Homo sapiens: one gene and its partner. The protein of the gene in region 2 purifies or fractionates together with the protein of the main gene of each other region. This does not show direct contact. Each region holds a gene or a part of one and is shown on either strand. Other genes may lie near its edges.

Region 1 (5,319 bases), on a different chromosome or scaffold from region 2:
CCTTCATTCGGTCACTCTGGGAGAAGCCAAACCACTGGGTGGCCACTTCCAACATGGAGGGATCGATCTCCACAGCATCAATGCAGGACTTTGGAAAATGATCGTGGACAAAGAGGGGGAGGCTGCCCCCGCCCAGGCCTACCACCAACAATGCCAGTGGGATCTCTGTAAGAAAAGAATAGAGCATCACATTGCCACCTGTTCACTGGAAAATTCTGTACCAGCCTCAGGGAAGGCAAAAGGGAAAGTCAGCTCACTGTCTCCATTCAGGGGATACAAGATTTAGAGGTCTCCCTGTCTCATTTCAGAAATCTAGGAGTGAATTTGACATCTGATAACTGAATCCTGGATTCATGATGACTAGATCCAGAAGATGAACTAGTGTGTTATTATTATTGTCTCTTAAAGATCTCAAAGTGGCCAGGGGCAGTGGCTCACACCTGTAATCCCAGCACTTTGGGAGGCCGAGGTGGGCAGATTACTTGAGCTCAGGAGTTCGAGACCAGCCTGGGCAACATGGCAAAATCCTGTCTATAGAAAGTAGAAAAATTAACTGGGCATGGTGACACACACCTGTGGTACCAGCTACACGGTAAGCTGACGTGGGAGCCTAAGGAGGTCAAGGCTGCAGTAAGCTGCGATCATACCACTGCACTCCAGCCTGGGCAAGAGTAAATCCCTGTCTCAAAAAAAAAGACTTCTTCACTATAAGAATTATTAGACCCTCTCTAGGAAAGGGAAGAAGAGTGGCCAAACAATCTTGCTCATGATTACAAGGCAGCAGAGGTGCAATGTCCCTTGCCCTTGACTCAAAAGGCCACACCGTCTTCTCAGACACCCTCACCAAGTAAGGGTAAGCCATTCAAGTTCCACAAATCACAGGAAAACAAAGGCCCAACTCCTACTCCTAAGCACAGAGCACAGCCACCACAGGGGGATCAAAGGAAGACAACAAAAGTCACCCGAAGGAGACAGACCCTGAGAATTAAATCTAAGAACTGAGATTCTAGTGACATACATCAACACTAAGATAGGACAAAAGTATAGGGTATTCCAAGAAGGCACATTCAGGGACTTCAGGTGAAAACGGTTACAATCACAGACAAAACATGAACAATTTCACTAATGCAGTCAGATCCAAACCTGCTATTAGCGATAAGGCTATGACTGCATTAACTATAATATGAATCTTTTCAGAAAGTAGAAATTCAAGATAGAATTGCATCTTTTGTTCAAATAATGCATTACAGAAAAGCTGAACAATTAAAATCTGTGTATTTTTACATATCTCATTGAATACATGATATACCTTAATTTTAAAAAGAAATGAACAGAAAAAATACCACTTAGACTCTAACATATTTCAATACAATTTCAATATAACAGGTTGAGTTTGAGGCAACAGTTAATTAGAATGCTCATTAACTTATAACATGGTTGAGATGAAGAAAGATACATTGTCAGCTTGTAATTGCTGTTCTTCAACTACAATGCAAGTGACACCAATTGTTTAGGTCTGTAATCTTTATGCTCCCTTCTGTGGAAGGCAGTGGCATCTCTCTCACCTAGGAGTAGCTCTGGGTTTCTCAGCAGGGCAAGGCCAGCGATCATGGCTTTGTGGTGTTCACAACACAGGTAACTCTTATCAATGGACTGCCCCGGGGCTGCAGGGAGGTCCTCCGCATCAGCAGGCCGCTGCTTCTTCCTGTCCTTTTTCCGCTTCTTCTGGGCTAAACAAGAGATATGAAGCCCTATGCTTAGTACACTAGTCCTCAGGAAGCAAGGGTTACTGGCAGCAGTGTGCTCCAGATGGCTTGAACACTCAAAAGACCCAATCGTTAAAATTTTGCAAACTGGTTGACATCATGTTGATAGCTTGAAACTGGCCGTAGTGAAATCATCTGGATGTTTGTCCCCTACAAATCTCACGTTGAAATGTGATCCCCAATGTCGGAGCCACCATGCTGGTCACGGGGGCAGATCCCTCATGAATGGCTGGGTGCCTTCCCCATGGTATTGAGTGAGTTCTCACTCTAGAGCTGTTGTTGAAAAAAGCCTGGCATCTCTTTTGCTCCCTCTCTTGCTATGTGATGTACCTGGTCTCCCTTCACCTTCTGTGATAATTGTAAGCTTCCTGAAGCCTCACCAAATGCAGAAGTTGGTACCATGCTTCTTGTACAGTCTGCAGAACCATAAGCCAAAATAAAAGTCTTTTCTTTACAAATTATCCAGTCTCAGGTATTCCTTTATAAGCAACGTAAAACAAACAAATACAGTGGTGGTATTTATACTAGAGAACTGATAAACACTATAAATTAGGATGTGCCCCCCCTACCCCGCCCCACAAAGACATAGTCATTAAACATTTAACATATACAATGGATACAAGGAAGCTGGAAAAGGAAATGGCAAATGCACACTCAAAAACCTGGGAAAACTCAACTGAGGAGCCCTGGTACCTCCCGTCTAAGAAATGTAAGGCCACTAACAGGAGAAAAGATTACTCATAAAGTCTTTTAAAGAAAGGTAAAGTTACTAATCACCTGCTATGTGCCAATTACTATACCGTAACTTTTATTTTTTTAGCTCTTCTAACAACCTTATCATTCCAATTCTTGGCACATGAACACACTAAGCCACTGAAGTGTTAAGTAAATAGGGAATCAGCAGATGGTAGAGATAGGAGTTGATCCTCGGACTGCCTGTCTCCATCACCTATCATCTTTCTGCTATGCCACACAGGTAGCACTACCAACCTTTGCTGAAGAAGGAAATCACAAGTATTCAAAAAAGGAAATAAATCCTAAAAAGCCACTCCACTTTCCCTCTCACCACTCCCTTCCCTGCTCCAGGGTATCATACTAAACGGATGGCTGTGTCTTCATAGGGATCAGCTGCATTCCCCAGCAGTAAAAAGTGCTGATGAGTGGAGTCGGGGTGCTTTTCAGATATATTAAATCACTTTTTAATATGCTCTCCTTCTTGCTCACCAATACTCCCATGAGGGAGAACGTTCTTTCCATGAGAACAAAGTGCTACCAAGAAATCAAGGAACATGACAATGGTGAAAAAACCTGAAACCCAAACTGAAAGGGGCAAAATGTTCTTTTAAGCAATTTTACTGAGATTTTAGTGAGATGAAACTGGACCAACCTGCAGCCACAGTGACCAAACAATAGGGCAGAAACCCAACAATCTTGGGTGCTCTTGGCCAGGGAAAACCCCTAAAGAAAAATACCATTTCGCTGGGTAACTTGATTCTAGGCTCAGAGCCAGTCTATGACCTCAAGCATCTGAATTCTCTGTCTCCACCCTCCTCCCAGATGGCCTTGCTATGAGGGCAGGCCAGTCAGGCAAAGGGAACAACTGGGAATCAGGAGAGCCATTTCAGCTTCCATCCTTGAATCTCTGCGCCTCAGACAGGGAAGATGCACTGGAGACGGAGAGGTGAGGGGCATTCACTTTTCGCGGTCTATATTTGACTTTTGAAGTGATTTCAATGAACAAGTATCACTTTTAAAATACAAACTAACACAGGTAAAACAAACTATTGATTCCCCATCGGGGGAGTTTCTGAGTGACAGCTGGGAGACCACTTAAAGGGATCCTAGAAGAGATGGTTTAGATCTACACTGTCCAATACTAGCCACTAGCCCCCTATGGCTGTTGAAATATAAATGTAAATTAATTAGAATTAAAGAAAATTAAAATTCAGTTCCTCAGTTACACTAGCCACATTCCAAACGCTCAGCACTACATATGGCTAGTCGCGACCACATTAGAAACTCAGGAACTAAACATCTCCTTCATCACAGGCAGTTTTACTGAACAGTGGTATACTAGAAGGCCTCTAAGTCACCCGCCAATCCAAAACCCTCTGAAACAGGTGAGTCACACTATGGAGGGCAGGGCTCACCTGCAACTTCCATAGTTCTGGCTCACCTCACAGAGGCCTATTGAAACAATACACAGATGTATATGGAGCACCTGCAAAACAGATGCCTTTAAACCGAAGACATTAATGTGATTATCACTGTATTTGGTTTCACTACTCACGTCCCCTATCACTTCAGAGCCAGGCTCTGCTCAAGAACAGAATGTACTCTGCTTATAGCTATTCACACCCTAAGAGTCCAGATGGTTAAGAACCTACAGACACCCAGGTCCATCCTACATCTCGGCCAAGCTCCCAAGAAATCTAGTCCATGCCACGGCCACTTGGGTCCCACCACTGTGCCTATGACACCTCACCTTTGTGAGACACATCCTTCAGCAACCTGGCTTCGGACTGCACCACATTCCTGTTGCTGAGGAAGATCAGTCGACGGAAGTATCGCTTGTCATCCCCTTGCACATCCTCAATGACATAGTCACCGCTCAAGGGGCTGCAGTCTTGGTGCTGAACGGTCCGGACCCCAATGTCCCCACCCACAGACAGAAAGGGGACCTGAAGGTACAACCAGAGATGTGGTCAAAACAGCAGCTCATTTAAGAAATAAGAGAAATTATAACCCCTTCCCTTTTGTGTGTATATATCCCCATACCACGGTTCTAGACAACAACTACTCCACAGATTTGCCATTCTATTAAAGTACTTTTCTGGAGCCTTTGAACTGATCTCAAAGGTTTAATTCATCTTTTGAAAATCAACTGGACACATAAAGATCTCCCAAACAACTAGTGAGATGCAGCTGATTCTCCCCAAGTTCTTTTAGGGGTTTTTCTCATCAGTAACCCCTAAAAGAACTCTCAATAGTCCAGGATAACAAAAGCTAGAGGGAACCCTCAGGAAGGGGCTGTGATTATGAGAAGGAATCTACACAAGAATAAAGATAACAAAATCCATGGGAGAAACAACCACTCCAAATCTAGAGAGATATTCCTTTCCCCTGATTATTCTCATCTATTTTTCCCCCACTTTTCTGAACCTTAGGAGAAAAATATACTTTCCCCCTAAACTTTCCCACTCCTTCCCCCTATCTTTATTTCTTTTTTTAAAGACCTATAAGACTAGTTAATAATCACCAATATCTCCTGACCCTGCAGACTCAGGCACTGGTGAGAGGCCACAAATGAAGCTCCTCAGAGGATCTGGGCTTCCTTGAAATAGGGGTCATCAACCCCAAAGTTGGCCAGGAAGAATCAAACTTACATTCATCTGTAAACACGAGTCAGCCTAGTGGGCAAAACCACAGGCCAGGAACCCAGGAGCCTGGGTTCTTTTTTTTCAGATCTGTTACTATTTGCACCAAGCCTCTAGATACCTTTGCTTTCCCACCTATCAAGAAGGATCAAAGCTTGGGCAACATAGGGAGACCC
Region 2 (5,319 bases):
TGCAAATAAGATCCAGAGACCTGATCAAATTCAGGTTTAATTATTTGGCAAGACCATGTCACGGGTGATGTGTGCACTCCTATAGTACTTCCAGGCCCATAATGTCTGGTCTTCCTCTGTGATGTTAATATTTATCAGGATTTGGGACAGTTTGATAAATCCATTAGAAATTTTTGTTTTTTAATCAGCTTTCCACTTAATGGTTTTGGCAGCCATTGATGACTGCCCATATCCATAATTTTATTAGGGGAAAATTACATTTTGATTACGTATCGCTGGTTGTTTTTGTTCAAAACATAGGTTGTATGTTAATCTGCCAGTACATTGGCATCTTCTGGATGAGGGACTCATTAGTCTTCTCACAAGAGTCCCTTTTGTTCATTAGCTTGTGGAATTTGAGTGTCTGTATGTTTTTTTTTTAATTGTTTGTTTGGAGGGGAGTTGATAAGCTAATTAGCTATAGAGACAAATTTCATTTTTGCTTAACTGAATCTCACTGCATGAAAAGGCAATCTAATTCTCCAACCTACTTTGGTAAGGTCTGATGACTTCTGTGGGCATGACCTTCAGAAGACTGGTTGGTCCTCTGTTTTGGAAGATCCTTGAGTGCCAAGCACATGATACATTGATGATCTGCTTAGTAAGAATAAATGTTGCTCCTCAGTTTGAGAGGTTTTTGCTGTCTTTGAGAAATATTTTCCCAGACATTCTAATGTCTAAATGCCATTTGAGTAGACAATCTTCTTCAATCCATGCCTGGTAAGTAGTGGGGTTCTGTGTAGCCAGCTTATTACACTAACTTCTCCTGACTCCAGTCATAGCTCCTTATTATTTTGTCATCAATGATGTTAACCAAACCAAGGAACATATTTGCTACTTTTCATATATCTCACTCCTTCCTTTTTCACTATTGTCTTTGTAGAACTCATAACATGTTTAAGAGGAAATTAAATACTGCATGTACAGATCTGAAGAGCTAGAGGCTGTATCTATAACCTTGCCGGTTTAAAGCATAGATCTTGAGTCCAAAAAAATTAAATGGGTACTGAGATCAAATTCTTGGAGGAAGAATATCAGGCTCTTAAACAATTTCAATGTCATAAGCAAGTGGGCCTCCAATGGAAAATCCCAGGTAAAAAGACACCTTCTCTATGCTTCTGCCACTTCTAAGTTGACCTAAAAAAGCGGGAGTGATGGGTATTGTGATTTTTTCATTGATTCCATATTCTATATATAAACAATTGTTTTCAGCTCGACCTTGTAAACGAAGCAAAAGTTCTTGGACTTTTTCCTCCTTCCACACATCTCCACTCTGCCACAAGGAATTAATATCTGGTGTCTTCTTAAAGCACTGGTCAATTTTTCCTTTGTGAACAAGTCTTTCCAGTCTTTTACCTTTTCCAAGAAAGAAATATGCAATTGGTTGCTTTGTACGATGCATATGTTTATATTGCCCCTTGAAAGAATTTTTTAGTGCTTGAGCATACTCTTTCATTTGTTCAGAATGTTGATCTAGTTGTTGATTTTCTGGCCAGAATAAGAGGGAAGCTAGAAAATACGGTTCTGAAAACTGATAAGTCAGTCCTATTGGTTGCAAGACTTCTCGAAGCTGATCTTTTAGTTTTTCAACTGGCTTTACTAATCTGGAGGTAGGTTGGATACAGGAGAGAATAATGTTGGCCAAGATGAAATTTAGCTTTTCTTTTGACTGGATTTTGACAGTGCATTGTTCTAAGAGAAAAGTATATTCGTTCACTATACATTTCATAGTGCTTATAGCATCCTCTTGACTTTTGATAAGATATTCCAAGAGCCCAGAAAACTTGTCTGCTTTTAAAGCTACTAGGTTTCTCCTGCATCTCTCTACTTGAAGTGGCTCACTGAACTTTGATCCAAGACCTGTGTTGTTTTGTGATTCTTCTAAGAGACAAAATATATCTACATATTTCTTAAAATATCCAGCCACCTTTCTCCGAGTTTTGGCCTCTTCATTTTGCTTAATATTGTTCCTGGGTTTTAGCAGGACAAAGTATTCATCAAAAAAATCAAAGGACTTTTTCAAAGAAAATTTCAATTTAGTTAAATAAGGAATATAGTTTTTGAGGGCTAATTTATATTCATTGTTTGGATCCCCTGGAATATCACTACTTCCTGATACAAAATTGACCATATATCTTTTAGATAGCTCATTTTTATTATCAAAAAAAGGAATGAGCTGGAGAATTTGGATTGTGTAAAGCCCAACTTCTATCTCTCCTTGATAACCAGCTATATTGTAAGTATCATACCGCCTTTTTGACTTCGGATACAATCTTTCCTTCACTTCATACTCTCTATCTTCACTTTGCTGTTGAGATTCTTTGAATGCACTTGAGGCATGTTCTGCTAAATCCAAAAGAGCAATTAGATCATCAACTGAAATGTTCCCGTTTCCTCCGTTTTCCTCTATCCACCATCTTATTTTACTTTTGTAGACTTGACCCAGTGTATCTGAGATATAAGAATTGTCAGGTTCTATGATTTTTGCTTGTTTTGCCCAGTTTAGAGCATTGCCAAAGTCCTTCTTTTTAATGTAGAAATGTCTTGCCAACGCTTGGCAAATGAATGCATTTGGGTTGAACCGATGGATACTTTCAAGCAATACAGCTTCAACTGCTTCATTTCCTTCATCTTTATGTAATGCTTCAATAAATGGGGAAAACCAATTTCCTGTTTCACCTTCATGTTCATCGCGGTGTCTTGTGAGTAGGAGTGTGTGCATATCTTGCAAAAATTTACTTTTTCCCATACCAGTATCGAAGAACAAATTCTCAGTTAGCATATCCAACATAATTTGACTTTTATTCAGGTGATAGCTTTTCTTCAATTCTTCCAGTGAGAACTCTGCAATCAAAGAGTGAATGATGCGTACTCCACAGTAGTTCCCACATTCGATGACCTCTGTTTTTATCAGAATTGTAGAGTAGGTGCCCATCTTGTCTTCAAATTTTTCTGTCCCCCAGAAAGCCTTCTTGTTTCCAATTCCTAAGAATTTTTCACACTGTGATAGTGAAATGGTGGTATCAGGCACATATGAATTAAGAAGAGCCAGAAAAGAAAAGAGCTTTGCTTCCTTGGTGAAAATATTCTGCCCTTTCAGGATATTCCGGACCACATTTTCTATGTATTCTTTATTAAAATTGGTTTTCATGATCATAAAGGAATAAAAATCCTCAAAGTTTTTATGCTGTTCTTTGATTTCTTTCAATTTAAGCTCAAAAGCTCTCTGTTCTTTGGGAGAGAGTTGCTGTATTACGGCAATACTGTCTGGGATCCTTGCACTTTTTTCAGGATTTTGTGATCTCATACAATTTAGGATAATCACCAGAGGTTTTTCATATCGAATGTACTTTTTAGCTATAGCTGTTTGAATAGAGTACTGCAGAAGATAGACATTATCTTGTTCTTCAAAATCATCAACAAGGAGTAGTACAGGTACGTATTCCTGACGGTTCATTGCCCCATAGGTGATTAAACTGGTTACCTGTTCTCCAATTTCAGAAAAATCCACTGTCTTGTTTTTCAGCACAGCACATCTGAATTTCTTCCTTAGTTCCCAGAGAATGTGCATAGCCAAGGTAGTTCCCCCACAGCCTGGATGATGATACAGATGAATAATTTTGGTACTTGTTGGTTTAGAAGAATCTGCACAGTTTTGAATCATTGCTTCAAGTCTTTCATATTTATCCCTTTTGACAAAAGGTGAAGAATAACTTTCAGAAGAGAAGTAGAAGTTCCACCATGACACTTTGCCACCTCGATAGAAGTCTTCCTCTTTTGATGCCTTGAATTCAAGGAATTTATTTTTGTCCTTCTCTAACAGTGTACCCTCACATTCATTTTCACAGATAATTTCCAGAGCAGTCATGATATCTTCTTCCTTTTTCAGAAGGACAGTCGATAAACCAATAGATGGCAAAAGCCTTTTTGAAGATTGAGTCACAGATTTTAGTTTAAGAATAGTGCCATTGATCTCTTCAAGGCTTAAAGCAGAAATACATTGGCTTGAAATTTCATCTTGGTGTTTTATTAATCTTGCTTCAAGTAGATCTTTCCATCCCTGAAATATGTGTGGGTGCACACAAATACACAGTATATTTTCCATTCCTTTGAGATCCTGGTAGAAAGCACAGAAAGTCTCAATGAGGGGATCTCTTGGGTCATCCACAGAGGACAGTAATAGAAATACCACCAAAAACTTCCCTCTTGGCATTATGTCTTCATGTGTAAGAAATGAAATCAGTTTCCTGACATCAGAAGCTCTTTCTCTTTGCCAGGAACTTGGATCAAAGGGTTTATATTTTTCACTGTCAAGGTCTAACCTGCCATTGCAGAAAATCCAGCTGGGTTGATGGTAAAGATTTAGAGTAGAAATCGTCTCATTTGGTGTGGTTTTCTGTTCTACATATACACTTGGAAAGTGAAGGTTTGCTACTCGGCTTTCTTTGTAAGCTTTGACCACTCCATTGATGTTAGACTCAGGATCAAACTCCAATACAGCAAACCATTTAATTTCCTTCAGGAAATCTAAGTGTTTTGTTTGATCTGGGTGGCATTTATTTGTTACAAGAATGTACTGTTCATAGTATGAATTATCTAACAAATCTTGATTTCCTGTCAATAATTTAACCAACTTTGGTCCCTCTCTTTCTTTTTTATTTGTTTTTGCTCTGAATTTTTCTTCTGCTGCTTTTCTGGACTCTGCCAGTGTTTTAAAATCTGCTTTAAATGCTCTGAAATCAACTTTATTTTTCGTAATGTCCTTAGAGCTGGTCCCATCTCGCACAAATAGTGAGAATTTTTTACTTTGTTCCCATATTTTGTTGTTGTAATTTTGCATTTTAATCTGGAAATAATCATATTGGCATTCAGAGAACTGTGGAATAATGTCCACTTCAATAACAAATCTGTCAGATAGAGTACTATTTGGCAGTAAAACTTCCACAAATCTTGGCTCTCGAATGCACTTCTTTGCTTGTTGGACTTGATGGTCTTCAAAATACTTGTTTATCATCAGATTGAAATGGTTAATGAGGGCTTCCTTGGTATCATTGGTGACTTTGATGCCAACAATTTTCCCATGGGGTTTGTCTTTGACTCCAAAATGAATAGTGCCATTGGTACGTGAATTCATACAAGCTGAAGCAAATCGGAAAACCTCATTGCTAAATTTCATCTTGACATCCTCTTCTGTGGCTGTTGCTGTATTTGTGAAGGCTTTGAATTCATGTATCGGATCAATGAGATTGCCTGGTCCTGTTTCAGGCTGTAGACTAAAAT

The links. The genes of interacting proteins can lie anywhere in the genome.
Region 1: the proteins of SAMD9 (region 2) and METTL13 fractionate together in Homo sapiens (co-fractionation; one large-scale study listed by BioGRID). This does not show direct contact.

What each region holds. Positions count from the first base shown.
Region 1 is NC_000001.11:171,786,863-171,792,181, reverse strand, and holds part of METTL13 (eEF1A lysine and N-terminal methyltransferase), read right to left. Parts: intron 4,448-5,319; coding exon 4,252-4,447; intron 1,731-4,251; coding exon 1,566-1,730; intron 166-1,565; coding exon 1-165. UniProt on the Homo sapiens protein: Dual methyltransferase that catalyzes methylation of elongation factor 1-alpha (EEF1A1 and EEF1A2) at two different positions, and is therefore involved in the regulation of mRNA translation.
Region 2 is NC_000007.14:93,100,247-93,105,565, forward strand, and holds part of SAMD9 (sterile alpha motif domain-containing protein 9), read right to left. Parts: coding exon 1,082-5,319; 3' UTR 1-1,081.